Homo sapiens: one gene and its partners. The protein of the gene in region 1 purifies or fractionates together with the protein of each later gene. This does not show direct contact. Each region holds a gene or a part of one and is shown in the gene's direction. Other genes may lie near its edges. The genes, in order: RAB30, LLGL2, BLTP3A, CUX1, ACOX1, PHLDB3 and F8A1.

Evidence for each region.
Region 2: the proteins of RAB30 (region 1) and LLGL2 purify together in Homo sapiens (affinity purification with mass spectrometry; 2 studies listed by BioGRID and IntAct, with this or other methods). This does not show direct contact.
Region 3: the proteins of RAB30 (region 1) and BLTP3A purify together in Homo sapiens (affinity purification with mass spectrometry; 2 studies listed by BioGRID and IntAct, with this or other methods). This does not show direct contact.
Region 4: the proteins of RAB30 (region 1) and CUX1 purify together in Homo sapiens (affinity purification with mass spectrometry; 2 studies listed by BioGRID and IntAct, with this or other methods). This does not show direct contact.
Region 5: the proteins of RAB30 (region 1) and ACOX1 purify together in Homo sapiens (affinity purification with mass spectrometry; 2 studies listed by BioGRID and IntAct, with this or other methods). This does not show direct contact.
Region 6: the proteins of RAB30 (region 1) and PHLDB3 purify together in Homo sapiens (affinity purification with mass spectrometry; 2 studies listed by BioGRID and IntAct, with this or other methods). This does not show direct contact.
Region 7: the proteins of RAB30 (region 1) and F8A1 purify together in Homo sapiens (affinity purification with mass spectrometry, with the first as the bait; 2 studies listed by BioGRID). This does not show direct contact.

Annotation. Positions count from the first base shown.
Region 1 is NC_000011.10:83,061,551-83,065,848, reverse strand, and holds part of RAB30 (ras-related protein Rab-30), read left to right. Parts: intron 1-4,298. UniProt on the Homo sapiens protein: The small GTPases Rab are key regulators of intracellular membrane trafficking, from the formation of transport vesicles to their fusion with membranes.
Region 2 is NC_000017.11:75,572,405-75,575,709, forward strand, and holds the end of LLGL2 (LLGL scribble cell polarity complex component 2), read left to right. Parts: intron 1-609; coding exon 610-874; intron 875-1,076; coding exon 1,077-1,227; intron 1,228-1,547; coding exon 1,548-1,576; intron 1,577-1,706; coding exon of another isoform or gene 1,707-1,789; exon of another isoform or gene 1,790-1,802; intron 1,803-1,808; coding exon 1,809-1,856; intron 1,857-2,048; coding exon 2,049-2,091; intron 2,092-2,205; coding exon 2,206-2,264; intron 2,265-2,466; coding exon 2,467-2,474; coding exon of another isoform or gene 2,475-2,502; 3' UTR 2,503-2,805; downstream 2,806-3,305. UniProt on the Homo sapiens protein: Part of a complex with GPSM2/LGN, PRKCI/aPKC and PARD6B/Par-6, which may ensure the correct organization and orientation of bipolar spindles for normal cell division.
Region 3 is NC_000006.12:34,868,583-34,872,082, forward strand, and holds part of BLTP3A (bridge-like lipid transfer protein family member 3A), read left to right. Parts: intron 1-2,271; coding exon 2,272-2,534; intron 2,535-3,001; coding exon 3,002-3,110; intron 3,111-3,236; coding exon 3,237-3,343; intron 3,344-3,500. UniProt on the Homo sapiens protein: Tube-forming lipid transport protein which probably mediates the transfer of lipids between membranes at organelle contact sites. May be involved in the retrograde traffic of vesicle clusters in the endocytic pathway to the Golgi complex.
Region 4 is NC_000007.14:102,198,271-102,202,568, forward strand, and holds part of CUX1 (Homeobox protein cut-like 1), read left to right. Parts: intron 1-531; coding exon 532-597; intron 598-1,800; coding exon 1,801-1,902; intron 1,903-3,089; coding exon 3,090-3,934; intron 3,935-4,298. UniProt on the Homo sapiens protein: May be involved in intra-Golgi retrograde transport.
Region 5 is NC_000017.11:75,968,638-75,972,935, reverse strand, and holds part of ACOX1 (peroxisomal acyl-coenzyme A oxidase 1), read left to right. Parts: intron 1-4,298. UniProt on the Homo sapiens protein: Involved in the initial and rate-limiting step of peroxisomal beta-oxidation of straight-chain saturated and unsaturated very-long-chain fatty acids.
Region 6 is NC_000019.10:43,474,068-43,477,937, reverse strand, and holds the end of PHLDB3 (pleckstrin homology-like domain family B member 3), read left to right. Parts: intron 1-2,393; coding exon 2,394-2,528; 3' UTR 2,529-2,835; downstream 2,836-3,870.
Region 7 is NC_000023.11:154,884,855-154,889,000, forward strand, and holds F8A1 (40-kDa huntingtin-associated protein), read left to right. Parts: upstream 1-1,500; 5' UTR 1,501-1,520; coding exon 1,521-2,636; 3' UTR 2,637-3,207; downstream 3,208-4,146. Other genes in the region: H2AB1 (histone H2A-Bbd type 1), read left to right, coding at 196-543.

The DNA of each region.
Region 1 (4,298 bases):
TGAGCCTCTGTTTCTTTGTAAGGTTGTTGGGAGGTTCACATGATGAGATCATGTGTTTTAAATGTCTGACACTATGCTTGGTATAGCTGGTGCTCATGGTAGCTGTTTTTAACATTATTTATCCTTTTAAACATTTTATTTATTGGGTGGTGCTTGTTTAGTATCCACAGTGACAAAATGAGGAAAAAGATAATTTAGTGTAACTACACAACCTGATTCAATGGGAAGTACACAACATCACTGATGTAGAATTTTTGCCAGAAATGCTTAACTTAAATCTAACCATGGGGCTGGGCATAGTAGCTCACATCTGGAATCCTAGCACTTTGGGAGGCCACGGCAGGAAGATTACTTGAGCCCAGGAGTTCAAGACCACCCTGGGCAACATAGGGAGACTCTGTCTTCTCCTTTCCTTTCCTTTCCATTCCTTTCCTTTTCTCTCTTTCCTTTCTCTCTTTCTTTCCAGAGCCTCACTCTGTTGCCTAGGCTAGAGTGCAGTGGTGTGATCACAGCTCACTGCAACCTCTACCTCCTAGGCTCAAGGGATCCTCCCATCTCAGACTCCTGAGCAGTGGGGACCACAGGTGTGCACCACCATGCCTGACTAAATTAAATTTTTTTTTTGTAGAGACAAACTGTCACTATGTTGCCCAGGCTAGTCTTGAACTCCTGGGCTCAAGTGGTCCTCCCATTTTAGCCTCCCAAAGTGTGAGCCACTGTGCCCAGCTCTTGTCTCTATTAAAAGAAAAAAAAAATCTAACCATAAATAAATAATCAGACAAATCCAGATTGTGGGACATACTGCAAAATAACTGGCTTATGATCTTCAAAAATGTCACGCATGAAAGACAACAAAAATGGAAGGTATGAGGGACGACAATCTATATTAAGGGAGACTAAAGAGATATGACAACCAAATGGAACATGTAATCCTAGATTGGATCCTGGACTTAAAAAAAAAAGCTACAAAAGACATTTTCAGGATAATCGGGGAAATTTGAATGGGAGCTACATATTAGATAATCAGTAACAATGTTAGTTTTCTTGGATGTGATAATGATTCCATTTGTTTAACCTGACACGTTGTAGATATTGGTATATGATCAGCTGGCGTTCCTGAATGTCTTCAGGAATGTCATAGCAAAGCTAGAACACATCAAGGGCTGCTTCAGGAGGTAGTGATTTTCCTGGTCATTTCAAGTATTTAATCAGCCTATGGGCTGGGATACCACTTTTTGGGACATTGTAAGTGTTGTTTTATATCCTTTCTAAATACAATCCTGTATTCTGTGACTGGAAACTTCTACAGCTGGCACTCTATGTGTGACATTACTAGAGGGAGCAATGCAGGAGGAACATTAGCTGTTCCCAAATCGAAGGGAAAAGGTACCTAAATATATATCTCAAATTTGTTTTTTGATTCTAGAATTGACATAAGATTGGCTGGGCGCAGTGGCTTATGCTTGTAATCCCAACACTTTGGGAGGCTGAGACAGGTGAATTGCTTGAGTCCAGGACTTTGAGACCAGCCTGGGCAACATGGTGAAACTCTGTCTCTACAAAAAATATGAAGATATTTTTGTATTTTTTAGCTGGGTGTGGTGGCGCACACCTGTGTCCCAGCTATGGGGAAGGGTGCGGCTGAGGCAGGAGGATCCCTTAAGCCCCAGAGGTCAAGGCTGCAGTGAGCCCTGATCATGAGACCTTGTCTTAAAAAAAGAAAAGAAAGAAATAACATAAGATTAATTAAAATTCATTACAGAAAAACACATGGACTGTATAGGGAAAGTCCTCTTTAATTCTACCCACAAAGATAATCAACTGTTAGATTTTGATGTGTATTCTTCTGTCATTTTTCCCCATATGTGTACTAGCAATATTATTATAGCACATGTAATTCTGCTTGTTCTCTTTTACTTAATATATTTTGGGCATTTCCCCCATGTATTTGCATATTGCTCCAACTTACCTGTTTTAATGGTTGTTGGGAACTGTGCTACAGTGAGCCTTTGAGTACCTCATTTTATTATGAATTTGTGGGAATATTTCTGTAAGATATCTTTCAGGGGGCAGAAATGCTGAGTCCAAGGGCACTAGCATTGCCCCCTGATTTAAATTCTTGTCAGCAATGTTGAGAGGGCTAACTCTACATACCTTTGCCAAGTCCATTAGCCACTTGGGCTGAACTCTTTTACTAAGGGAAGCTAGTTGCGAAGGGTGAACAGAACGGGGGCAAAAATTGAACTACGGAGTTCCTGCTGGTTTTTGTGATGGTGGTAATAAAAGTTGATGTGTAAATAATGTAGAAATCCCTGGAAGAGAGAAATACTTTATCCCTGCCTGCAACACAGTACAGTGTTTAAAAAGTGAACTGAAACAATAAAGCAGTCAAGAGTTTTCCCCAGAGAATTCTGCAGAAAAATTTTATTTTCTAGTTACGGTTAGTTAACTTCACTAAAATGTGGACGTCATCAACCTTGAAATGAAAATATCTTCTGCTCACTTCCTCTACATCTCAGTCATGCAACCACATTGCAAAGAGAATTTAAGCTCCACTTTTAAAATATCTGAAGCAGGTGGTTAAAAGGCCCGAGTGTTCATTTTTCTGAATTTCAGTAGAAGCAATCAAAGGGCAGATTTTTGGCATTTTTCTTTAGAGAAGCAGGTGTGAGCTTAGGAGTGGCCATCAGTGAGTCACTTTGCCCTAACAGGAACCCTGGGGAAGAGATTGTGAGGATCGCAGCCATGAATTATTTTCACTCTTTAGCCACTGTGGCTGGGTGAAGCAAACAAAAAATTTGAGCTGTTTGCTACGTGGACAACTTATCTTTTTTTTTTTTTTTTTTGAGACGGAGTCCCACTCTGTCACCCAGGCTGGAGTGCAGTGGCGCAATCTTGGCTCACTGCAACCTCCAACTCCTGGGTTCAAGCGATTCTCTTGCCTCAGCCTACCGAGCAGCTGGGATTACAGGTGCCCACCACCATGCCTGGCTAATTTTTTTGTATTTTTAGTAGAGATGGGGTTCCGCCTTGTTGGCCAGGCTGGTCTCAAACTCCTGACCTCAGGCGATCCGCCCACTTCAGCCTCTCAAAGTGCTGGGATTACAGGTGTGAGCCACCATGCCTGGCTGAGCCTCAGTTTCTTTATCTATAAAATGGGGATTATTGTGGGGCTCAAAGGAGATGTTGTGTATAAAAGGACTTTGGCAAATTTATGTGCACATAAATATATTCTGTTGTCAAAGGGTTCATGTCTCAAACTCTCAAACTGAGCAAGTTCATACTAGTCTTTCCTTTAACTCCAGTGGCCTTTGTAGGCTGAATGACTTTTTGAAAGGAATTCTGTCTCATGTTGTCTAATTGTTCCTTCTTCAGCCAGTGTTTGTGTGCTAAATGCAAGGTCCTGTGCTGGGTATTCTGATAAAAAAACAAAGGTGGAACCATCTGAGTGCTTTCCTTGTTCACCACTTTAATTGTAGGAAACTAATATCTTTTAATGAGAGTCTTCAATAAAAGATGCTCTACAAAGTTGTATTGTGGATGCTGTCTTATTATCTCAATTCTAGGCAGTAGAATTTAGCTCAATTTTTTACATACAAATGAGGAACCAATTTTCAGTAAGGTTAAGTAAACTTGTTTTGTTTTTCGACATGACCTAGCCCTCCCCTCCCACTCTGAAAAATGCAGATATAGACCCTAGGTAGGCTTTCTGAAACCAAAACTATACTGTTTCTGTAGCTGCTTCCTGTTCTTGCCTTGCCTTCTGATTGAAAATATAAGCTTCATGAAGCCAGGACCGTCTGGTGGCATTTACTTTCATATGGTTCATGTTATTTTCAGGCACGGGGGAAGAGTTTTCTGTAGACCTTTTGTTCACTGGAGCCATAATGTGAACTGTCATAGCATCTACTGGGTGCCAGGTGGTTTATGTTTTATTTGATTCTTTTTCCAACTTAATTCGAAACCTTTCAAACCTTTAGAGCAATTGCAAAAATAGTACAGTGAAGCCAGGCACTGTGGTGCACACTGGTAGTCCCAGCTACTCAGGAACAGGAAGAATGCTTGAGCCCAGGAATTCAAGAGCAGCCTGGGCAACGTTGTAAGACCCCATCTTTAAAAAAAAAAAAAAAAAAAAAAAGAAAAGAAAGAAAAAAATCCCACCTAAAAAAACAAAAAACAAACGAAAAACATTCCATGTACCTTTTATCTGGATTAATTTGCTTTTGTCTTTACACACATACACACACACGTGTGCACACACACAGATACTTTTTCTAAACCACTTGAAAGTAAGTTGC
Region 2 (3,305 bases), on another chromosome or scaffold:
TGTAATCCCAGCACTTTGGGAGGCCGAGGCGGGCAGATCACAAGGTCAGGAGATCGAGACCATCCTGGCTAACACGGTGAAACCCCGTCTCTACAAACAAATGCAAAAAAATTAGTTAGGCGTGGTGGCGGGCACCTGTAGTCCCAGCTACTCAGGAGGCTGAGGCAGGAGAATGGCGTGAACCCAGGAGGCGGAGCTTGCAGTGAGCCGAGATTGTGCCACTGCCCTCCAGCCTGGGCGACAGAGCGAGATTCCGTCTCAAAAAAAAAAAAAAAAACCAGCATGGTGGTGGACGCCTGTAATCCCAGCTCTACTCGGGAGGCTGAGGCAGAAGAATTGCCTGAGGCGGAGGTTGCAGTGAGCCGAGATCACACCACTGTACTCCAGCCTGGGCGACAGAGCAAGACTCCATCTCGGAGGAAAAAAAAAAAAATCCAGATAGGGAAGTCGGTGACCTCGGCATCCTCCCAGGCCATGTCTGTGCATCTGAGAGCCAAGGGTTTGTCAGGACACCGGGAGGCATGTGGGGAGGGGAGGGCCCAGCAGCAGCAGCACAGGGCAGGAGAACTGGTTTGGCCATGGGCATGAACAACCACCCCACGCCCCCAGGTGTTCACGCTGCCCAAGGTGAGTGCCAAGCTGAAGTTGAAGCTGACGGCCCTGGAGGGCTCAAGAGTGCGGCGGGTCAGCGTGGCCCACTTCGGCAGTCGTCGAGCCGAGGACTACGGGGAGCACCACCTGGCAGTCCTTACCAACCTGGGCGACATCCAGGTGGTCTCGCTGCCCCTGCTCAAGCCCCAGGTGCGCTACAGCTGCATCCGCCGGGAGGACGTCAGTGGCATCGCCTCCTGCGTCTTCACCAAATATGGCCAAGGTGTTTGAGCCGGGCTGGGTGGGTGTCGGGGCCCCGGGCACTGCACGGACGGGAAGGGTGGCCAGGGGTGTTGTGGCCACGGCCAGACTGGATGGGCCTTAAGCGGAGAACTGCGAGGGAGCACTAGCCCCTACTCCCCCAGGTGGGGAGGCAGCCTTGGCAGCCGCCAGGCCAGGCCGCTAGCATTGCCCCCACTCCCCAGGCTTCTACCTGATCTCACCCTCGGAGTTTGAGCGCTTCTCTCTCTCCACCAAGTGGCTGGTGGAGCCCCGGTGTCTGGTGGATTCAGCAGAAACCAAGAACCACCGCCCTGGTAACGGTGCGGGCCCCAAGAAGGCCCCGAGCCGAGCCAGGTGAGTGAAAGGGCCAGAGGCCTCTCCCGCCCCTCCCGCCCCTCCCTGCCCTCTCTGAGATACCGAGGCTCCCACTGCTGCCTGGCTGGAGGCACCTCCCCACGAGCTCAGCCCACCCTCCCAGGCTCCGGCTCTCCTTGCCTCTTTGCGTGCCCCTTGCCCCTGTGCAAGCTGGCAGTCCAGGGCAGGACTCAGTTTACCTCCCAGGCTCTCCGGCTCAGGACAGGCTGCGCCATTGACTTGTTCTTCATGGGACCAGGGCTCTCAGAGCCGGGCAGGGAGCCCGGGGGCCCTGGTCCTCACTGTCTCTTCCCCCACAGGAACTCAGGGACTCAGAGTGATGGCGAGGGTAAGACAGGCCTCCTGGGCTCATGCACACCTGGGCCACACCCGGCCCAGACCTGGGGCTGGACGGGAGGGAAGGGTCCCGAGTGAGCAGGTAGTGTTTGGGCTGGGAATAGAGACGGCATTCCTTCCAGCCCTGGGCCCTGGGCTTCCACATCCTGACCTCAGTAAGGAGAGAGAGAGCCAGGCCGAGGAGGGCCCAGGCGGGGCGCCCTGACCCGGCCTCTACCTTCCAGAGAAGCAGCCCGGCCTGGTGATGGAGCGCGCTCTGCTCAGTGATGAGAGTGAGTTGGGTGGGAGAGGGTGGGGCTGGCAGGAGGGGTGGGGAAGGGGGGTCAGGGTCAAGGGAGGCTGGGCAGGCCACTGCCCTGAGGCGGGGTACAGATCCATGGGCACCCACGGAGAAAGGGGGTGGAAGGGCTGTGGCTAGCCGCCCCAAGGGCCTCAGTGGGCCTCTGTTCCCACCCGGCCTGCAGGAGTCCTGAAGGAAATCCAGAGCACACTGGAGGGAGACCGCGGGTGAGGCACCGCCCAGGCCAGCTGGGGTGGGCCCGAGGCTCTGCCAGAGGGCTCAGGGGAGCGCTGAGAGTGGAGGTCCCTGAGGCCATGACTCCCCTGTCTTTGCCTGTGCAGGAGCGGCAACTGGCGTTCACATCGAGCCGCCGTGGGGTGCAGCCTCAGCAATGGCGGAGGTGGGGGCTCTGGGCTTGAGTGCAGCTGCCAACCGTGCTGGGAAGGGCTGGGAGGAAGAGCCCCGGCCCCACTCCCCTGGGTCCCACGGGGCTGACACGTGCCCTGATGACCAGGAAAGCACCATGTCTGGGCTCAGCGTGGGCGGCTGGGGCACCCCGTCCTGCCCAGGGTGATCTTGAGCTGTCCCTCTGTGTCCTTCAGCAGAGTGAGTGGCTGAGCGTCCAGGCTGCGCGATGAGCACACACTACTACTGATGGCCTTTCGGGGGTCCCTGCCCCAACCGGAGAGGCCGGTGCACAGGGCCCCGCCAGGGGCTGGGGGCATCCCGGCTTCCACAATGCAGCTGCTCTGGGCCTCGGGAGAGGAGAGACCCCAGTCCCCTGGGCTGCCCTTCCCGGGCCTCGTCTGTCTGGGTCCTTTGGTCAATGTTGCACAGTTTTTATTGCTCCCATCCCTTTTTGTAGTGGGCTGGGTTTTAAGTTATAAATGTTAACTGCCTCTGGGTGAAAAAGTTTTTAATAAACACCTATTACCTCTTGACTGGTCCACTACTTTAATATTTTAATTGTGTAGAAATTTTCCATGTGAATGGAAAGTGGGAGCCGGTACCCTGCCTGTCCCCCGAGGCTCCAGCCCTGGCCTGGGCCGGTGTCAGGAGAATCCACTTGGGGAGCCGTGTGAATCAAACTGCTTCGTTTTGTCTGAGCCCGGCGGTGCCTTCCCTCTGTGGGAACACATGGCAAGCACGAACCATCTTGAGTCTGCCTGACTTTTTCCCTGGGTCCTGGCCGCCCCTGGCTGGCCTTTCCCTACTGTCAGAAGAAGGACACCCACAATATCTCAGACCTGATGGCTTCCTCCAGACACCAGGGAGGACTGTGGGGTGCTGCTGAAGCGGGGCTGGTACCCAAGGAGAAAGGCCTTCCCCAGGGGAGGGGCTGGGTTATTTAGATTGGACATGGGCTGGATCTTTATTGACTCGTCTTCGTTGAGCACCTACTGTATGGCCAGTGCGTGGGGTTCTCCGGTGTCTGAGACAA
Region 3 (3,500 bases), on another chromosome or scaffold:
GTGTGGTGGCAGGCACCTGTAATCCCAGCTACTTGGGAGGCTGAGGCAGGAGAATTGCTTGAACCGGGGAGGCGGAGGTTGCAGTGAGCCGAGATCGCGCCCTTGTACTACAGCCTGGGTGACAGAGCAAGACTCTGTTTAAAAAAAAAAAAAAAAAAATTAGCTCGGTGTGGCGGTGCGTGCCTATAGTTCTAGCTGCTTGGGAGGCTGAGGTGAGTGGATCATGTGAGTCTAGGAGTTTGAGACTACAGTGAGCTATAATTGCACCACTGCACTCCAGCCTGGGCAATAGAGCAAGACCCTGTCTCTTAAAAAACATTAAAATATTGAGTAGATACTGAAGAACACTTATAAAATATATGTAAGGCATAAAATAATAACAATACAATGAACCCATTTACTCACCACCTAGTTTGTTTTATTGTTTTTTAATTTTTTTTTGAGACACAGTCTTGCTCTGTTGCCCAGGCTGGAGTGCAGTGGCACGAATTCGACGTGCTGCAACCTTCACCTCCTTCAAGCAATTCTCCTGGCTCATCCTCCTGAGTAGCTGGGAATACAGGCACACACCACCACGCCCAGCTTATTTTTGTATTTTTAGTAGAGATGGGGTTTCACCATGTTGACCAGGCTGGTCTCAAACTCCTGGCCTCAAGCGATCTGTCCATGTCAGCCTCCCAAAGTGCTGGAATTACAGGCCTGAGCCACCATGCCTGGCCCCACCACCTAGTTTAATTAATACAACAGTACCATTACCTTTTAAGTCTCTGGGAGTCCCTCTCCTGAACCTCCTTCTGTCCCTCACCTGTCATAGGTAATCACTATCCTGAATTTGTATTCATTGTTATCTTGCTTTACTTTATAATTTGTACACGTGTTTATATTAATGTATTTTTAGCTTTTTTCACATTTTTCTAAATGGAATAATAGATTGTACTATTTTTGTGATTTGCTTCTTTCAAGTAACATGATATTCTTTAAATTCATCTAGGTTGTTGAATTAGCTATAATTTGTTCATTTTTCATTACTATATAATGTTATTGTATACATACACCACTTTTTTTTTTTTTTTTTTTTTTTTTTTTGAGGCAGAGTCTTGCTGGGTTGCCCAGGCCGGAGTGCAGTGGTTGCAATCTCAGCCCACTGCAACCTCCGCCTCCCGGGTTCAAGTGATTCTCATGCCTCAGCCTCCTCAGTAGCCAGGACTACAGGTGCCTGCCACCACGCCTGACTAATTTTTTTGTATTTTTAGACAGGGTTTCACCATGTTGCTCAGGATGGTCTTGAACTCCTGAACTCAAGTGATCCACCCGCCTCAGCCTCCCAAAGTCTTAGGATTACAGGCATGAGCCACTGTGCACGGCACTTTTTGCTTTTTGAAAACAGCTTTATTGAAGTATAATTTGCATAACATAAAATTCACTCATTTTAAGTGTACAATTTTATAATTGTGTAACCATCACCACAACCCAATTTTAGAACATTTCCATGACCCCCAAAATATCCCTGTACCCATTATACTATTTACTTCTTTATTCTATTCTGGACAGCCATTTGGGTTATTTCTAGTTTTTGTTTGTTTGTTTGTTTTTCCAGTTTCAAATAGGGTTGCTGTGAACATCCTTGTACATGTCTCTTGGAATATATGTTTGAGAGTTTCCCTGGGGTTGTATTTCTGACAATATAATTTCTAGATCATTAGGGTAGGCACAACTTCACCTTTACTAGATAATACCAAATTGTTATGCAAAATGTTTGTACCAATTTGCAGTTCCATAAATGTGTAAGTTGTTCCACAGGATCCTTGGCTACACCTGAGAGTGTTCTGTTTGGAGTTTTGGAGAGATTAGCATAGATCCTGCTTTGCTTTATGAGTGACAGATGAGAAAACCAAGACTTAGAGAAAGGAGGAGACATTCAAATTTAGTAGAGTTTGGGAGTCCTGTGTTTTAAGAGCTTTTCCTTGGCCATTAGCCCACTGTCTCACATTCATAACAAGGCCAATCCTTAATCTCTCTTCCACCTTGCAAGGCATTATAGCAAAGTATCTAAGCCCATGGACTTGGCAATCAGACTGCCTGGGTTCAGATCCTCTCCTTGCTACTTACTAATTATGTAATTTTGGGCAAGTTATTCTCTGTGACTTCGTTCAGTCAGATGAGAATGATGATATTCCTTTGACATAGGGTTATTATGAATATTGGTATATAAGGTGCCTAGAAGACTCCCTGGCCGTTAATTAGTTGTCTTCCTTGTCTTTCTTCACAAAGGTACATGCTTTCAGGAATCCTCAACTTTGAAGACTGGCCACATCAGGCCAGCTGTGGGCCTTCGCTTTGAGGTGGGGCCTGGAGCAGCTGTTCATTCCCCCCTGGCCTCACAAAATGGCTTCCTACATTTATTGCTTCATGGCTGTGACCTCGAGCTGCTCACTTCAGTGCTCAGTGGCCTGGGGCCCTTCTTGGAGGATGAGGAGATCCCGGTGGTAGTCCCCATGCAGATTGAGCTTCTGAACTCCAGCATCACCCTAAAGGTGTGAGGAACCTTTGGTTTTTGCCAATGTAAGGGCACATTGGTTTTTGCCCTGGACTTTGTCAAGCAAGGAAGCAGTGACACCTGTTAACCTCTTCCCTTTTCACTGTAAAATATGGTGAGGATCAAGTGAGGAAATATTAATACATATTTGCATTCTCTGTCAGTGTTATAGTGGTATATAAATGTGTGTTGCTGTCAGAAAAGCCAGGGTTCAGGTGAGGAGACCTTGTCTGTAACCCTAACCCTGTCTTTGGCATGCAGCATTACCATGTGCAAGCCATCAGGTTATCTGATTCTCAGTTTCACCATCTCTAGATGGGAGAATCTGCCATGCCTCTTATACCTTCCAAGAATGTATGGACAAACTGGCATAAAGCTGCTTCAAGCTGAATGATGGGAGCATGGGTTGTGTTAAATTGCTCTGAGCTGGTGGGGGGCATCATGTGGTTTCTCTCTTTCCTGCAGGATGATATCCCCCCCATCTATCCAACATCTCCAGGCCCCATCCCCATCACTCTGGCCATGGAACATGTTGTGCTGAAGAGGAGTGATGATGGTGTGTTCCACATAGGCGGTGAGTCAGGCTTGTCAGCCTGTTGGTTTCTCTGCCTTTTCTCCTAAAAGTGAATAGGTGACACCTAGGAACTGTTTGGGAGTTGGCAGCAGTTTGTCACTTAGAACCTTTACTTGTTTTCTCCAGCTGCTGCTCAGGACAAACCATCAGCTGAAGTACTTAAAAGTGAGAAGAGACAGCCCCCAAAAGAACAGGTGTTTTTGGTGCCCACAGGAGAGGTTTTTGAACAGCAGGTGAGGACCTAACAGAACAGTAGCTGCCCATAACCCTTGGGGGCTATACTTGTGAAACTGGTAAAACCCGGGGTTGGGGGGCAAAAAGGTTGCGTGTGCTGCCTGCATGTGGGTGTTTTGGGTTCCTGTCACCTAGCAGCGGCTTCTAGAAGTGCTG
Region 4 (4,298 bases), on another chromosome or scaffold:
CAAAAAAGAAAGTTCCTTTTCTGTTTAAGACCAGGGGATCAATGTGCCACATCAACAGAGCTATTGAGAGGTCATTTCATCAGACATGTTTGAAACACCCTGAAATTTAGACTCAAACAGAGCAGGGAGATGTTTTGAACAGCATCAATTTGCACCAAGAAAATGCAGTGTTTTATGAGGATGTTAACCGAAATTGAATGTCTTTGGATGATTAATGCGAGCTTTGTTCTGGGGGCTGGCGGGTGATCCTCCTTCAAGGCAGTCCTCCCTCCCATGGACCTCCCTGGCCTCAATGCCGTAGGTCGCTACTTAGATTTCCCCCATCTCCTTTTGCAGCAGAGCCACGGCCTCTGCGGGCCGGTCAGCCAGGGAAGGGCCTCTCAGAAGATTCTAGAAACTCCCGAGTTGCACAGGCAGCCCTGAGCCCTTTCTTTAGTGACAGGCGGCTCAGATTTCATGTCACACAGCCCATATCGTCAACACCACCATTCCCCTGATTGTTTTGTTCTTACCACACTTGTTTTTCAACAGAGAATCCAGGCCAGAGCCTGAACAGACTATTTCAGGAAGTACCGAAACGAAGAAATGGGTCTGAAGGTATGTTGCAGGCAGGCGTTTTCTTTGCAGTCAGTCACCTAGGGAAGCAGCATGTCCTTAGCTGTGTATTTGGGTTAAAACTGTGCAGTGTGATTCTGGCCTGGAACCTGATGGAAAAACAGCTAGTAAGTATAAAACAAGGCACGGGTTCAAGCACACCCAGCCCCTTCCTCCCGAGCTGCCTGCCCTCTCCCAAGCACAGGCGGGGGTGAGAAGAGGCATTGCTAAGCTAAGCCCCCCGAGTCTGAATCCCAGCCCACTTCAGATCCTAATTACCCGGTCCCCCGTTTTTCTCAGACGCAGTTGAAAAAATAACAGCGGTTGCTCTGAGAAAAGTCAGGTGACCCGTCAAATTAAATACTGCTGCTTCCTCGTATTTTTAACTCGGAAACACACTCAAGGTCCTATGGAACGGACGCATCCCACATCGTCCCGGTGGCATACTTGTTTTTAAATGGTGGTATACTTGTTTTGAATGCAGTGGTTCCTATTTAGGAAGGTAGTAAGAAATTAAACTATCCGGGTGGCTTCCCGAAAGAGCTGGGGCCAGCCCCTGGGCCATAGTAGCCTCATTTCGTCGGCACGTGTGCCTGCACAAAACATCACCATGTGGCCGAAAGAATCCATCCTCCCCACTTAGGAATTTCTGCAGGCTCCTTTCCTCGTATGTAAATTTTAAAAAGATATTATGTGATAATAGGTGCAAACAATTTTTTAAGTTAAGCCTTTCTTCACCCTGTGCCTCTGAATGATTGATAGACAATCAGCCTCAAACCCTCTGCCCTCCTTTTCCGTTTATCCTGTGTGGGACCCCAGCATCCAATAAACATCTAACCCCGAGGAGAGTCAGTCCCAAGCCACAGCAGTTGCTTCTAAGTGACTCATGAGAAACATTGCCTTTTAATCACTCGCCTTTTATATATATGGATTAAATGATCGGTTCTCCCGGGTACTAACCCACGGGTGGTGTCCGGCTTTGGCAGAGTAACATTGACCGTAAGGTCAAATGAGCAGGAAATCCCTCCTGCCCGGTGTCGCTGTGAAGTTGCACTCACAGCAAACACAGGCCACTGGGAGGCCACATCTGCCTCCTTGTGTCACCAGCCCCCACCCGGGGCTATATATCAGAATGACGTCTTCGCGCAGCGCTGATTTTTGTCCGGGGTTTGGGTTTGATGTCATTGGCGCAACTTCTCCCCACAGGTAACATCACCACCCGGATCCGAGCCTCGGAGACTGGCTCTGATGAAGCCATCAAGTCCATCCTAGAGCAAGCCAAGAGGGAGCTCCAAGTGCAGAAAACTGGTACAGCTTCCATTTCTTCATCCACTGTCTTCAAACTTAATTAAGAGAATTGTCATGAGTGCTCTGGTCAGCAGTAATTAACTATTTTTTTTTTAAACAATAATGAATGCCTGTTCTCAAGCATTTAGGCACGTAGAGAGAAGCAGGTCTGTGTGATCTGTATTTGCCTAATAGTTACCTTTTTTTTTGAGATGCAGTCTCTCTCTGTTGCCTGTGCTGGAGTGCAGTGGCACGATCTCAGCTCACTGCAACCTCTGCCTCCCGGGTTTAAGCGATTCTCCTGCCTCAGTCTCCCGAGTAGCTGGGACTATAGACATGTGCCACCATGCCCATGATATTTGTGTTTTTAGTAGAGACGGGGTTTTACCATGTCGGCCAGGCTGGTCTCGAACTCCTGACCTCCAGTGATCCTCCCACCTCGGCCTCCCACGGTGCTGGGATTACAGGTGTGAGCCACCGCGCCTGGCCCCTAGTTGTAATTATTCACAGAAATTACGCTCCTTAACTTTGACAGAACCACTTGCATTTCAGAATATAGCACAGGAAAATGAATACCAAGTATAAAAATTATCAGAGGTCAGGCGCGGTGGCTCACACCTGCAATCCTGGCATTTTGGGAAGCTGATGGGGGAGGATGACTTGAGTTCAGGAGTTTAAGACCAGCCTATGCAACACAGTGAGAGACCTTGTCTCTTAAAACACTAGCCAGGCATGGTGGCATGCACCTGTGGTCCCAGCTACTTGGGAGGCTGAGCTGGGAGGATTGCTTGAGCCAGGGAGGTGGAGGGTGGGTACAGTGAGCCGTGATCGTGCCACTGCGCTCCAGCCTGGACAACAGCGAGATCCTGTCGCTAAAAAAAAAAAAAAAAAAAAAAAAAAAAATTCTCGGGGAAAGGAGCCCCAGGAGGGCAGGTCGGGGAGCACTTTCACTGACACCCCCTTTATTACCCTCTACATCTGTGTGTATACCAAAGGCCACCAGGTCATCAAGCTGTAGTGTCAGGCCCTGGTCCTTGGTTGAGACAAGATGCCTGAATGTTTCACTGACAGGGGCCATGCTGGGGAAATACACAGTGTGGTTCTCCCAAATAACCCACACTTTGCAGTAGGTCAAGTTAGGATGAGAAGCATGTCCCCAGCTGAAGGGGGCCGCCCTGCCACACTCTCACCCCTGTTTCTCCATGCAGCAGAGCCGGCCCAGCCTTCCTCCGCATCCGGCAGCGGGAACTCTGATGACGCCATCCGCTCCATCCTGCAGCAAGCCCGCCGGGAGATGGAGGCCCAGCAGGCTGCCCTCGACCCTGCCTTAAAGCAGGCACCACTGTCCCAGAGTGACATCACCATCCTCACCCCCAAGCTTCTGTCCACCTCGCCCATGCCCACCGTGTCCAGCTACCCACCTCTCGCCATCTCCCTGAAGAAGCCCTCCGCAGCTCCTGAGGCCGGTGCCTCTGCTCTGCCGAACCCCCCGGCCCTCAAAAAGGAGGCCCAGGACGCCCCCGGGCTGGACCCCCAGGGAGCAGCCGATTGTGCACAAGGGGTCCTGAGACAGGTGAAAAATGAGGTGGGCCGCAGCGGTGCCTGGAAGGACCACTGGTGGAGCGCGGTGCAGCCGGAGAGAAGAAATGCCGCCTCCTCCGAGGAGGCCAAGGCCGAAGAAACGGGCGGCGGGAAAGAGAAGGGCAGCGGTGGCAGCGGAGGTGGCAGCCAGCCTCGGGCCGAGCGCAGTCAGCTCCAGGGACCCTCGTCGTCAGAGTACTGGAAGGAGTGGCCCAGCGCTGAGTCCCCATACTCCCAGAGCTCAGAGCTGAGTCTGACCGGGGCCAGCCGCAGCGAGACACCACAGAACAGCCCCCTGCCATCCTCCCCGATCGTGCCCATGTCCAAGCCCACCAAGCCCTCGGTCCCCCCGCTGACCCCCGAGCAGTACGAGGTCTACATGTACCAGGAGGTGGACACCATCGAGCTCACCCGGCAGGTTAAGGAAAAGCTGGCCAAGAACGGCATCTGCCAGAGAATCTTCGGGGAGAAGGTAAGGGATCTGCTCTGGGGGCTTTGGTTCTCCCATCTCTTCTCCTTGCTGAGGACCAAGTATCTATCCCGCAGCCTGTGACCCTCACCCATTTCAATTCACCCAAGAGCAGAGCGTAAGGCATCCTCTGCTCCCAGACTTCCAAGGTGCGGCTGGTGAACATTGCAGCCCCGATCCCATTTGCCGAGCCCCGACTGCAGCCAGGTTCTAGGCTCAGCCTTTCACCTGCATGCTGCCCTTTCGACCCCTCACTTGGCGCTGGGAAGTGGATGGTAAAATCCCCAATTGACAGGGAAGGACACCAAGGCTTGGGGACGTTAACTACTTGCCCCAAGCTGACCGGCAGCCGAGTCCACATCCAGCT
Region 5 (4,298 bases), on another chromosome or scaffold:
TCTAATTATCAAAATGGCAGGAGTAAAGAAAGGGAAAGAAAAAGGGATGCAGATATCAGGGAAACATCATTTTGTGTTTGATTGCTGATTTCAGTGTGTGAATTGGTTTAAGGAAAATGTTATTTATTGTCATCTCCATGGGTACTGCAGCTTTCTGGTCATGGTTTGATGTTCCAGACACTTTACTAAACACTCAAGACTTCAACTTCAAGATGGTCAGTACTGAAATTATAAGCCTGAAAGAAAGGTTTGTAAAGGAAGATAAGATTCTTTTTTTTTTTTTTTTTTTTGAGACAGAGTTTTGCTTTTTTTGCCCAGGCTGGAGTGCAATGGCATGATCTCAGCTCACTGCAACCTCCGCCTCTGGGTTCAAGTGACTCTCCTGCCCGAGCCTCCCGAGTAGCTGGAATTACAGGTGCTCACCACCACGCCCGGCTGATTTTGTATTTTTAGTAGAGACGTGGTTTCTCCATGTTGGCCAGGCTGGTCTTTAACTCCTGACCTCAGGTGATCTGTCCACCTTGGCTTCCCAAAGTGCTGGGATTACAGGCTACAGGCGTGAGCCACCGCGCCTGGCTGACAGATCCTTCCTTTTTTTTTTTTTTTTTGGAGACAGAGTCTCACTCTGTCGCCCAGGCTGGAGTGCAGTTGTGCCATCTCGGCTCGGTGCAAGCTCCGCCTCCTGGGTTCACGCCATTCTCCTGCCTCAGCTCCTCAGTAGCTGGGACTACAGGTGCCCGCCACCACGCCCGGCTAATTTTTTGTATTTTAGTAGAGACGGGGTTTCACCGTGTAAGCCAGGATGGTCTTGATCTCCTGACCTCGTGATCTGCCCTCCCAAAGTCCTGGGATTACAAGGCATGAGCCACTGCACCCGGCCTGAGAGATAAGATTCTTTATGTAGTCCTCCTCGCTTGGAGTATCTGTGTGTTTGTGTACATGCATGCGTGGTGTGTGTGTGTGTTGTAATTTTGAAGTAGCTTTGTGGTACAGAACTCTGTTTCAGTATTCATCATTATAGAATTTATTCGACTTAACAGTCATGCTGTTCATAGGAGGCATAAGATGTGAAATAGTCTGAGGCTAATGGATTTGTTAAGTATACCTCTTACCTCTTGTTGGTCTAATGCTTCTGCCTCATTTATAAAGTAATATCACAAATATATATTTGCCCTAATTTTTTTTTTTTTTTTTGAGTCAGAGTCTCATCCTGTGCCCCAGGCTGAAGTGCAGTGGAGTGATCTCAGCTCACTGCAACCTCCACCTCCTGGGTTCAAGGGATTCTCCTGCCTCAGCCTCCTGAGTAGCTGGGATTACAGGCACCTGCCACCATGCCCGGCTAATTTTGTTATTTTTAGTAGAGATGGGGTTTGGCCATTTTGGCCAGGCTGGTCTCAAACTCCTTACCTCAGGTGATCCACCTGTCTCAGCCTCCCAAAGTGCTGGGATTACAGGTGTGAGTCACCACGCCCGGCCTGCCCTAATTTTTGAAAGGAGAGAGGAAGAAAGGAAGACTTGAACTATACTGGTTTGAGGCAAACAGAAGTTGGACAGAGATCCTATATGGCTGTGGGCAAGTTTGCATTTGTTAGAGTTTTCGTTCCCTTATTGCTTTTAGTTTTGGGTATTTTTTTTTTTTTTTTTGAGACAGAGTTTTGCTCTTGTTGCCCAGGCTGGAGTGCAATGGCGCGATCTCGGCTCCCCGCAACCTCCGCCTCCCAGGTTCAAGTGATTCTCCTGCCTCTCCCTCCCTAGTAGCTGGGATTAGAGGCGTGTGCCACCATGCCCGGCTAATTTTGTATTTTCAGTAGAGACGGGGTTTCTCCATGTTGGTCAGGCTGGTCTCGAACTCCCGACCTTAGGTGATCTGCCCGCCTCGGCCTCCCAAAGTGCTGGGATTATAGGCGTGAGCCATCATGCCCAGCTAGTTTTGGGTATTTTCTTGTATTTAAACCAACGTTGTCTTAATCTCTGTGGTTTAGAGAACAGTGTCCTAAGATTAGTCTTTTTTCTTGCTGGAATTTTGCTAATTCATATTGCTGTTCTTGGTTGATGACTGATCTTTTCCTTGGAAATAAGTCAGGTTGGTTAATTTGCATCACGTGACGGTTTTATCTTATATGGAATACACAAAAAGTCAACGTCCAGGAGATCGGCAATAGAGCAGCTTATATAGAATGAGATCTAACTATTTAAATTCTGAGACTTTGGAAAATGGATCAACAGTGAACAGTGATTATCTAACGCGGTCTCACAGAAGTAGCTGTAACTTTGGGTTTGGGATTCTTTCACTTCTGGGTAGCTGCTGAGAAGTGAAGGGGCTCAGAAGTATTCAGGTTCACTCCATGTTCCTTCCAAATCCTAAAATTCAGTCACCTACAGAAAGTCTCAGTCACCAGCATTATCCTTCTTTCTAGAGTGTGTCTTCTTTCCTCTAAGGACACGAAGAAACTCGGATATACACCTGCCCTGTGGGTCTGGGAGCCATAATCAAAGGCAGAGGCCTGAACCTGGGTGATAGGCTCACCTCCCTGGAGTTCTGGGATCAAAGGAACAGCCTGGGGAACTGGGTCCATGTTATCATCCTGACCATATGTTTCTTTAGGCCACAAAACAGGTCGTTTGTTTGCTCTTCACAGATATGTAATCATTTCAAGATGTGGCCATTTCTGGAGATTCTTCTTGCTTTGTTTTCCTTGTTTGCTTGCTTGCTCACTTCCTTCCTTCCTTCCTCTTTTTTTTTTTTTTTTTGAAGGAGTCTCATGTTGCCCAAGCTGGAGTGGTGCAATGGTACAATCTCGGCTCACTGCAACCTCCACCTCCCCCTGGTTGAAGTGATTCTCCTGCCTCAGCCTCCTGAGTAGCTGGGATCACAGGTGTGCACCACCATACCTGGCTAATATTTATATTTTTAGTAGAGACAGGGTTTCACCATGTTGGCCAGGCTGGTCTTGAACTCCTGACCTCAGGCGATCTGCCCACCTCGGCCTCCCAAAGTGCTGGGATTAGAAGTGTAAGCCACTGCACCCGGCCTCTTTCTCGCTCTCTTTCTGTCTTCTTCCCTTCCTCCATTCCTTTCGTTCCTTTCTTTCTTTATTCCTCACCCATGGACTGGGGTCACATTGCCTTGTTTCGTATTACCATCTATTTAGGAATATAGAGATTGTATGATACATAGTTATCCTTGAAGCTGATGCAGTATCCTGGCAAATTGCCATCATTAACACTTAAATATGAAATAATGCACCTTTCTTTGAAACTGGAAAGAGGTAGTAAACTTGATTTTTAAGTCATCAGTCTTTACCGCACTCCGTTGCCCTCTCTCCCTAGGCTTAACAGTCTCCTCTTCCCTCTGCCCAAGTGATTCTCTTCCCTGTTGGACTTCTCATGAGACTTGCTTCCCTGGGGATTTGGGCTAAATTTCACCAATATTAGTGATAATAATATAAACTTTATGAAAGCTGTGTTCTGGCCAGGCACGGTGGCTCACGCCTGTAATCCCAGCACTTTGGGAGGCCAGCGTGGGTGGATCACCTGAGGTCGGGAGTTCGAGACCAGCCTGACCAACATGGAGAAACCCCGTCCGTACTAAAAATACAAAATTACCTGGGTGTGATGGTGCGTGCCTGTAATCCCAGCTACTAGGGAGGCTGAGGCAGGAGAAGCTTTTGAACCTGGGAGGTGGAAGTTGTGGTGAGCTGAGATTGCGCCATTGCGCTCTAGCCTGGGTAACAACAGTGAGACTCCGTCTCAAAAAATAAATAAATAAATAAATAAATAAGACGCTGTATTCTTTGGGGTCATACTTCTGGAATACCTCTCAGAAATGAATTACTATATTGAGGGACATGAGCATTTTAGAGCTTTTGCTGCATAGTTTGAGGCTTTTCCTGAAACACAGAACCAGTTGACAATATATTGAGCAAGCTCTGTACCTGTATTTCCACAGCTCCATCAACGTGGTCACTTTAATTTATTTTGCTACTTTAACATATTTCTTTTTTTTTTTTTTTGAGACGGAGTTTTGCTCTTGTTGCTCAGGCTGGAGTGCAGTGGCGTGATCTCGGCTCACCGCAACTTCCGCCTCCCGCATTCAAGCGATTCTCCTCCCTCGGCCTCCTGAGTAGCTGGGATTACAGGCATGCGCCACCACGCCCGGCTACTTTTGTATTTTTAGTAGAGACGGGGTTTCTCCATGTTGGTCAGGCTGGTCTTGAACTCCTGACCTCAGGTGATCCGCCCGCTTCAGCCTCCCAAAGTGCTGGGATTACAGGCATGAGCCACTGCACATGGCCTAC
Region 6 (3,870 bases), on another chromosome or scaffold:
CAGGGTACTCATAGGAGTACGTGTTTGTCGCAGAGAAAACAAACAGGTCACCTGACTGCAGGGACTAAAAATTAAGAGCCCAGACTCTGGCCTTCAGCCACTGTTAATTTTCTTCTTTTTTTTTTTTTTTAAGACAGAGTCTCATTCTGTCGCCCAGGCCTGAGTACAGTGGCGCCATCTCGGCTCACTGCAACCTCCGCCTCCCTGGTTCAAGCAATTCTCCTGCCTCAGCCTCCTGAGTAGCTGGGATTACAGGCACCGTGCCCGGCTAATTTTTGTATTTTTAGTAGAGACGGGGTTTCACTGTGTTGGCCAGGTTGGTCTCAAACTCCTGACCTCATGATCTGCCCACCTCAGCCTCTCAAAGTTCTGGGATTACAGGCGTGAACCACCGCACCACACGTGGCTCTTTTTTTTTTTTTAGATGGAGTCTGGCTCTGTTGCCCAGGCTGGAGTGCGGTGGCGCCATCTTGGCTCACTGCAACCTCTGCCTCCCGGGTTCAAGCGATTCTCCTGCCTCAGCCTCCCAAGTAGTTGGGATTACAGGCGTGCCACCACAGCTGGCTAACTTTTGTATTTTTAGTTGAGATGGGGTGTCACTGTGTTGGCCAGGCTGGTCTCGAACTCCTGACCTCATGATCTGCCCACCTTGGCCCCCCAAAGTGCTCGGATTACAGGCGTGAGCCACCGCACCTGGCCTGTCACTGTTAATTTTCTTGGAGCAAAAGTTTTAGAGCCAAAATATGGCAGACTCTGATGTCCAACTGGGAATAAATGAATGGAGAGGTCACAGCAAGGGTCGGGCAGCCTGGGAGCATCTAAAGGAGATGATCTGCCAGGCGTCGTGGCTCATGCCTATAATCCCAACATTTTGGGAGACCAAGATGGGAGGACTGCAGGAGGCCAGGAGTTTGAGACCAGCATGGTCAACATAGCAAGATCCCATCTCTGTTTTTTTTTTTTTATTTTTTAAATGAAAAATAAATAAAGGAGATGGTTGTTAGTTGGCTCCTGCCAACAGTTGCCAAGTGGGAGTGGGTCCCATGGTGTTGTCTTATATTTATTTTTTCCCAGAGAACTCAGGAATTGGAACTTGTATAAAGCACAGTGCCAAAAATTTAAATGTTGGCAACTGATACAATATTTAGAAAGCTCTGTGGAGAATAACCAAACTGTGGCTTTTTAGCAATTAGGTTGGAATCTCAGCTATGTGACATCAGGAAAGTGACTTCCTTTCTTTAGCCTTTAGCCTTAGTTTTCTTTGTTTCTTTTTCTTTTTTTTTTTCTTGCTCCATAGACCAGGCTGGAGTGCAGTGGTACAATCATAGCTCACTGCAGCCTCTATCTCTCGGGCTCAAGCAATCCTCCTGCCTCAGCCTCCTGAGTAGCTAGGACTATATGTGTGTGCCACCACACCCAGCTAATTTGTTTTGTTTTGTTTTTCTGGTATTTTTTTGTAGAGATGGGGTCTCCCTCTGTTGCCCAGGCTGGTCTTGAACTCCTGAGTTCAAGCAATCAATCCGCTTCAACCTCCCAAAGTGCTGGGATTGCAGGCGTGAGCCACCCAGCCCGGCCGGCCTGAGTTTTCTCACGTGTAGAATGGGTACGCATCAACCCATTCCATCAGGGTTATTGAGAGGGCTAAAAACAGATTATGGACATAAGGGATTTACTCAATTTGGGATTGGCAAGTGGGTACTCAAATAACGGATTCTAGACACTAACTTTTCCCAGGTACAAGGGGACCTAGATTTTGGGGAGGTGGAATTTGAATGCCTGTATTTCTAATATAGGAGAAGTTAGGCTGAGAGAAGGCGTCATAAGTCCTACTTTTAAATTTCTCGGCCTGGCACAGTGGCTCACGCCTGTAAGCCCAGCACTCTGGGAGGCCGAAGCAGGCGGATCACGAGGTCAAGAGATCGAGACCATCCTGACAAACACTGTGAAACCCTGGTCTGTACTAAAAATACAAAAATTAGCTGGGCGTGGTGGCACACGCCTGTAGTCCCAGCTACTCGGGAGGCTGAGGCAGGAGAATCGCTTGAACTCGAGAGGTGGAGGTTGCAGTGAGCCAAGATTGCGCCACTGCACTCCAGCCTGGCGACAGAGCCAGACTCAGTTTCAAAAAAAAAAGAAAAAAAATTTATCTTGCCCCTAATTTATCAATAGCGCTCTACATATGATAATTTTAAGCACTTCCTTGTGTTAATTCATTTAATCCTTATAACCCAGTGAGGTAGGTGGCATCATTTGGGAAGACAGGGAAACTGACATTCAGATACTTAAGTACCTTGTCCAGTGCCACACAGACTATAAGTAGCAAGGCTGGGTTCGCACCCAGACTGTGGCCGGTGTCTTTTGTCTGAATTACCCTCACTTTCTGCTTATTCCAGAGCCCCAACCCCCGCCTGACCTTCTGCGTCAAAACCTACGAACGCCTTTTCTACATGGTGGCTCCGAGCCCCGAAGCCATGCGCATTTGGATGGACGTCATCGTGACCGCCGCTGACGAAAACCACGCCCCCTGAGTGGCCCCGCCCTCTTGGGGGGAAGTCCCTTCGAGGCTCCGCCGGCGCGGGGCGCGGGGGCGTTCCTAGGCCCCGCCCACTGCCGGAAAACTTGGACGCACCGCTTTGGAACTCTCCCGGGAATTCCGCAGGCGCGGCAGTTCAGCTGGCCTGAGCTGCTGCGTTCTGGGTTGCAGGTGCCTTGCCCCCGACGGGATCGCCGGCCCCTAAGGCCCTGCCCGGGGCAGGAGGAAGATTGCAGGGGCGGGAAGAAACTATTTATTGGTGCTCCTGTGATACCGAATTAAATACGGAGGAAAAACAGGAATTGCTGCTGTGGTTTCCAGCCCAGGCATCCGGGGCCCCTTGACCCCTAGGCAGGACATCTGAGTTATCGGTACCTCTGGGAGCCACGCGTCCCACAGCCGGCTCTCTAGGAATGGAGGCCTTCAACTCTTAAGGTCATAGCTGGGAGAAGAGGGTGAGAGGCATGTCCCCCTTAGTGTTTGGCAGTTTTGCTTTTTTAGTTTGTAGGCCCTTCTGTTTCCACCCTTTCTGGCCTGACCGGCTGCTGGAAATTTCTAGGAACTCCTAGGCTTCCCCCCTTTAGGCCTTTGCCTACGTTGTTCCCTCTGCCCTTTTCTTCCCTTTTTTTCTTTTATCTATTTATTTTTATAGAGATGGGGTCTCACTGTGTTGCCCAGGCTGGTCTCCAACTCCTGGACTTAAGCGATCCACTCACCTTAGCCTCCCAAGGTGCTGAGATTACAGGTGTGAGCCACCACGCCTGGCCCCCCTCCTTCCCTTAATCAGCTGCACCTCATTCTTCCAGCCTTAGTTCAGTTGGCACCTCCTTCAGGAAGCCCTCACTGACTTTCCTGGCTGGGTCAGGCACCCCCTTTTGAGCTCTGTCATCCCATCCCTGAGGACCCTGGGTCATCATGGGCGATGGATCTGTGTCCTTTATGCACTGGGAGCTCCATGAGGCAGAGCCAGCATTGTCCTGGTCACTGCTGTTCCCAGCACCATAGAGCATGTCTCATTCCATGAAAGTGGAAAAAAACAAAAAATAAAACTCGCTTCCCTTTCACCTCTGGGCCTTTGTACGTTCTGTTCCCTTTGCTTAGGCACCTCTCCCCATTCCACAAAAGCCCTGCTCATCATTTAGCTTTTAGTTCCTATATTAAGTCTCTTTCTCCAGGAAGCCCTCCCTGATTGTCCTGGCAGGTCAGATGCTTCCTCTGGGCTTTTCTTTTTTTTTGAGACTGAGTCTCAGTCTGTCGCCCAGGCTGGAGTGCAGTGGTGCAATCTCGGCTCACTGCAACCTCCACCTCTCAGGTTCAAACGATTCTTCTGCCTCAGC
Region 7 (4,146 bases), on another chromosome or scaffold:
GTGTGTCCCTTGTGAGGGGCCGTCACCACATGCGTGCCCGTCGCCGGATGTGCGTGCCCATTGGTCTCGGCTCCCTAGCCAATGAGGGGCTGGGCCCTGGTCGCTAGGATACACAGTACTGGACGCGGTAACTGTCCTCTTGAGAGCCATCTTGCCTAGCTGGGCCAAGCCGAGATAGCACACTCAACGCCCAGCATGCCGAGGAGGAGGAGACGCCGAGGGTCCTCCGGTGCTGGCGGCCGGGGGCGGACCTGCTCTCGCACCGTCCGAGCGGAGCTTTCGTTTTCAGTGAGCCAGGTGGAGCGCAGTCTACGGGAGGGCCACTACGCTCAGCGCCTGAGTCGCACGGCGCCGGTCTACCTCGCTGCGGTTATTGAGTACCTGACGGCCAAGGTCCCGGAGCTGGCGGGCAACGAGGCCCAGAACAGCGGAGAGCGGAACATCACTCCCCTGCTGCTGGACATGGTGGTTCACAACGACAGGCTACTGAGCACCCTTTTCAACACGACCACCATCTCTCAAGTGGCCCCTGGCGAGGACTAGCTTCTGACACCCGGCCCCTGGGACCTGACAGGTCCACTCGTCCACCCACCCGGCCCCAAATCCCCCGGCCTGAACCCCCGGCCTTAAACACCCTCCCCCCACAACCCAGGCCCCAAAGTCTTGGGCCTTCATTAATTCTGTCAATAAAATGTTTCAAGGAAGCCATCTGCCCGCTTCAGTCACTTTGCCTTGGGGTGGGGGTGGGGGGGCGGTGAGATGGGTTGGGGGGTTGTGAGACCTCCACAGCTGGAGGGATGGAGAGGTGGTGGGGGTCTGGGGTTGGGTGGGAGCCAGGGATGGCACAGAGGAGCAGTCTCTCCGGGTGACAGTGCAGGGGAGTGGCCCTGGGTGGGAAGGGGACACCCCCGCTGGTTCTGAGCAAGTCAGGGCCTGCCCGGGAAAGTCCTCAGCATGATGGTGTTCGTTGGGGCGGGTGGGCCTCAAGACCATGACTGCAGTGTTGCGACAGGACGGACTTCTAAGGCAACCGGGGTGGGGACGGAGAGGTGGACCCGGTGCTTGGCAAGGGGCCCTGGACCGGAAGACGGAGGACTGAGTAGTCGGGGCGGGGGGGGGGGGGGACAACAGTCTAGAAATGCGCAGACATGGAATTAGGGTCACGAGTTTCGTTTGGGTCATGTTCAGATGGAGAGGCTGTGGGATGCCTTTAGCAACCTAGACCACTTGCATTGCAGCCGAGCTAGCAGCAGCTGGTGCCCCGCCAGGCCCCGCGTACCTTCCCAGGGTCTTGGATCCGCATCCCCGAGACCCTCGATTTGCATACGCCGCTCACAGCCCGGCCAGGCCCCGCCTCCGATCCCGCTCTTTGCACCTCATCAGGGCAAGGGGCAGGCTCGGGCTGGGGAGCCGGCGCGGGCACGGCGGCAGCCCGCCGAGGGGGACGCAGGGCACGTCGCCCCGCCCCGGCCCGCCCGCCAGCTGCGGCGGCGCGTCGGGAAGTGCTTGGGGCGGCGAGCATGGCGGCAGCGGCTGCAGGCCTGGGCGGCGGCGGCGCCGGCCCGGGACCCGAGGCCGGGGACTTCCTGGCCCGCTACCGGCTGGTATCGAACAAGCTGAAGAAGCGGTTCCTGCGGAAGCCGAACGTGGCGGAGGCCGGCGAGCAGTTCGGACAGCTGGGCCGGGAGCTGCGCGCCCAGGAGTGTCTGCCCTACGCGGCCTGGTGCCAGCTGGCGGTGGCGCGCTGCCAGCAGGCGCTCTTCCACGGGCCCGGGGAGGCGCTGGCCCTCACCGAGGCCGCCCGCCTCTTCCTGCGGCAGGAGCGCGACGCGCGCCAGCGCCTGGTCTGCCCCGCCGCCTACGGGGAGCCGCTGCAGGCCGCCGCCAGCGCCCTGGGCGCCGCGGTGCGTCTGCACCTCGAGCTGGGCCAGCCGGCCGCCGCCGCCGCCCTCTGCCTCGAGCTGGCCGCCGCCCTGCGCGACCTGGGCCAGCCGGCCGCCGCCGCCGGTCACTTCCAGCGCGCCGCCCAGCTCCAGCTGCCCCAGCTGCCCCTGGCCGCGCTGCAGGCGCTTGGCGAGGCCGCCTCCTGCCAGCTGCTGGCGCGCGACTACACCGGCGCCCTGGCGGTCTTCACGCGCATGCAGCGCCTGGCGCGGGAGCACGGCAGCCACCCGGTGCAGTCACTGCCGCCGCCCCCGCCGCCGGCACCCCAGCCCGGGCCCGGGGCGACGCCCGCCCTACCGGCCGCGCTGCTTCCTCCGAACTCCGGCTCGGCGGCGCCCTCTCCCGCCGCCCTGGGCGCCTTCTCGGACGTGCTGGTCCGCTGCGAGGTGTCCCGCGTGCTGCTGCTGCTCCTCCTGCAACCACCGCCCGCCAAGCTGCTGCCGGAGCACGCCCAGACCCTGGAGAAGTACTCCTGGGAGGCTTTTGACAGCCACGGGCAGGAGAGCAGCGGCCAGCTTCCCGAGGAGCTCTTTCTGCTGCTCCAGTCTTTGGTCATGGCTACCCACGAAAAGGACACGGAAGCCATCAAGTCGCTGCAGGTGGAGATGTGGCCACTGTTGACTGCTGAGCAGAACCACCTCCTTCACCTCGTTCTGCAAGAAACCATCTCCCCCTCAGGACAGGGAGTCTGATCCATCCCATTCACCCAGTGACTTCTTTTTGCCCAGGCCTGGACTTTTTGCATCAGTCACGTTAACCAGATGACTTTGCCTGTTACCAAACCTCATGCATCCACGTTTGCGTCTGGGGAGGAATAAAAAGACATCGTTCCCGCTTCTGCGTTTTGTTATTCCTACTGCCGCCATAGGAATTATTTCGTTGGCTGAACGTTACCAGCACCCCGAGAACACATTTTGATAGAATCAGAGTAGAGGACATGGCTGTCTTCTAAAAAGCCACGACATGAAAATGACAATCCCTTTCGTCTCCTTCCTCCGCTGCTTCCACCTAACGCAGCCTCCTGCCTCCGCCTTTGTTTCATAGTGAGGATTTTATTTTGCACGGCGCCCTCCCTCTAAATACCTACCCTAGATGATTTCATCCTGCCCCTCACTTCTTAACATATTCCTGTGTCTTTGTAATGGCCAAATTTCTCCTTCCACTCGTCCGCACGGTACGTCTTCATGGGAGTCATTTTATTCCTTACAGCTTCCTTGTAACCACAGCCCTAAATCCATGATAAAGCTACTCTTGTACTCCTCATGTGTGGTTTTGGTGTCCGTCGTCTATAAAATGTGACTCTCTTACCTACTTGTCAGGAGGCCAGCAGCAGAACCAGATAGCTGTTTGGGCTCCAGGATGTATTCGTTCCTTTGAAATTTGCGCTATGCCTCCTATGTGGGCAACGAACCTGCAGAGATCATCTATGATGTGCTCCGTACTCGGGTGACTGCAATGCAGATACATCCAGTGCAGCGGGTCTGGTGCCGATGCATCGATTTGCATTGGAATTCACGGTTCTGGTTCCATTCGCAGAGGTATATGCAGTCTGGATCACAACAGCTTTTATTTGTAATAGGGATTTTTTTTTTTTTTTTTTTTTTTTTTCCCCCCGAGATGGAGTCTCACTCTGTCGCCCAGGCAGGAGCGCAGTGGCGTGATCTCGGCTCACTGCAACCTCCGCCTCCTGGGTTCAAGCGATTCTCCTACCTCAACCTCCAGGGTGCCTGGGATTACAGGCGTGCACCACCACGCTGGGCTAATTTTTGTATTTTTAATAGAGATGGGGTCTCACCATGTTGGCCAAGCTGGTCTCCAACTCCTGACCTCAAATGATCCACCCTCCTCGGCCTCCCAAAGTGCTGGGATTACAGGCATGAGCCACCACGCCTGGCCTGTAATAGGGATTTTGCTGCAACTTTTAGTTAAGTAGGTGAAATCAGAGTGCGTGGCCCTTTGGTGTTGTGCGATCACGTGACTGCAAGGCAGCCTCCGTGTTCCCCCAAAGCAGGATGGCGTTCCGTTTGAGAACACTTAAGTTTCCAAGGCTTTCTGGCTCAAATGGAGCATGCCCCCCAACTACGCTGTTTTCTTATTTATTGCGTCTTTTTAATCCTTTTGATGGTGACAACAAGAACTCTTCAGAATATAGCCTCTTTCTCAAACTTTCAACCCTGGGGAAATGCATCCTTTGGGCCGAAG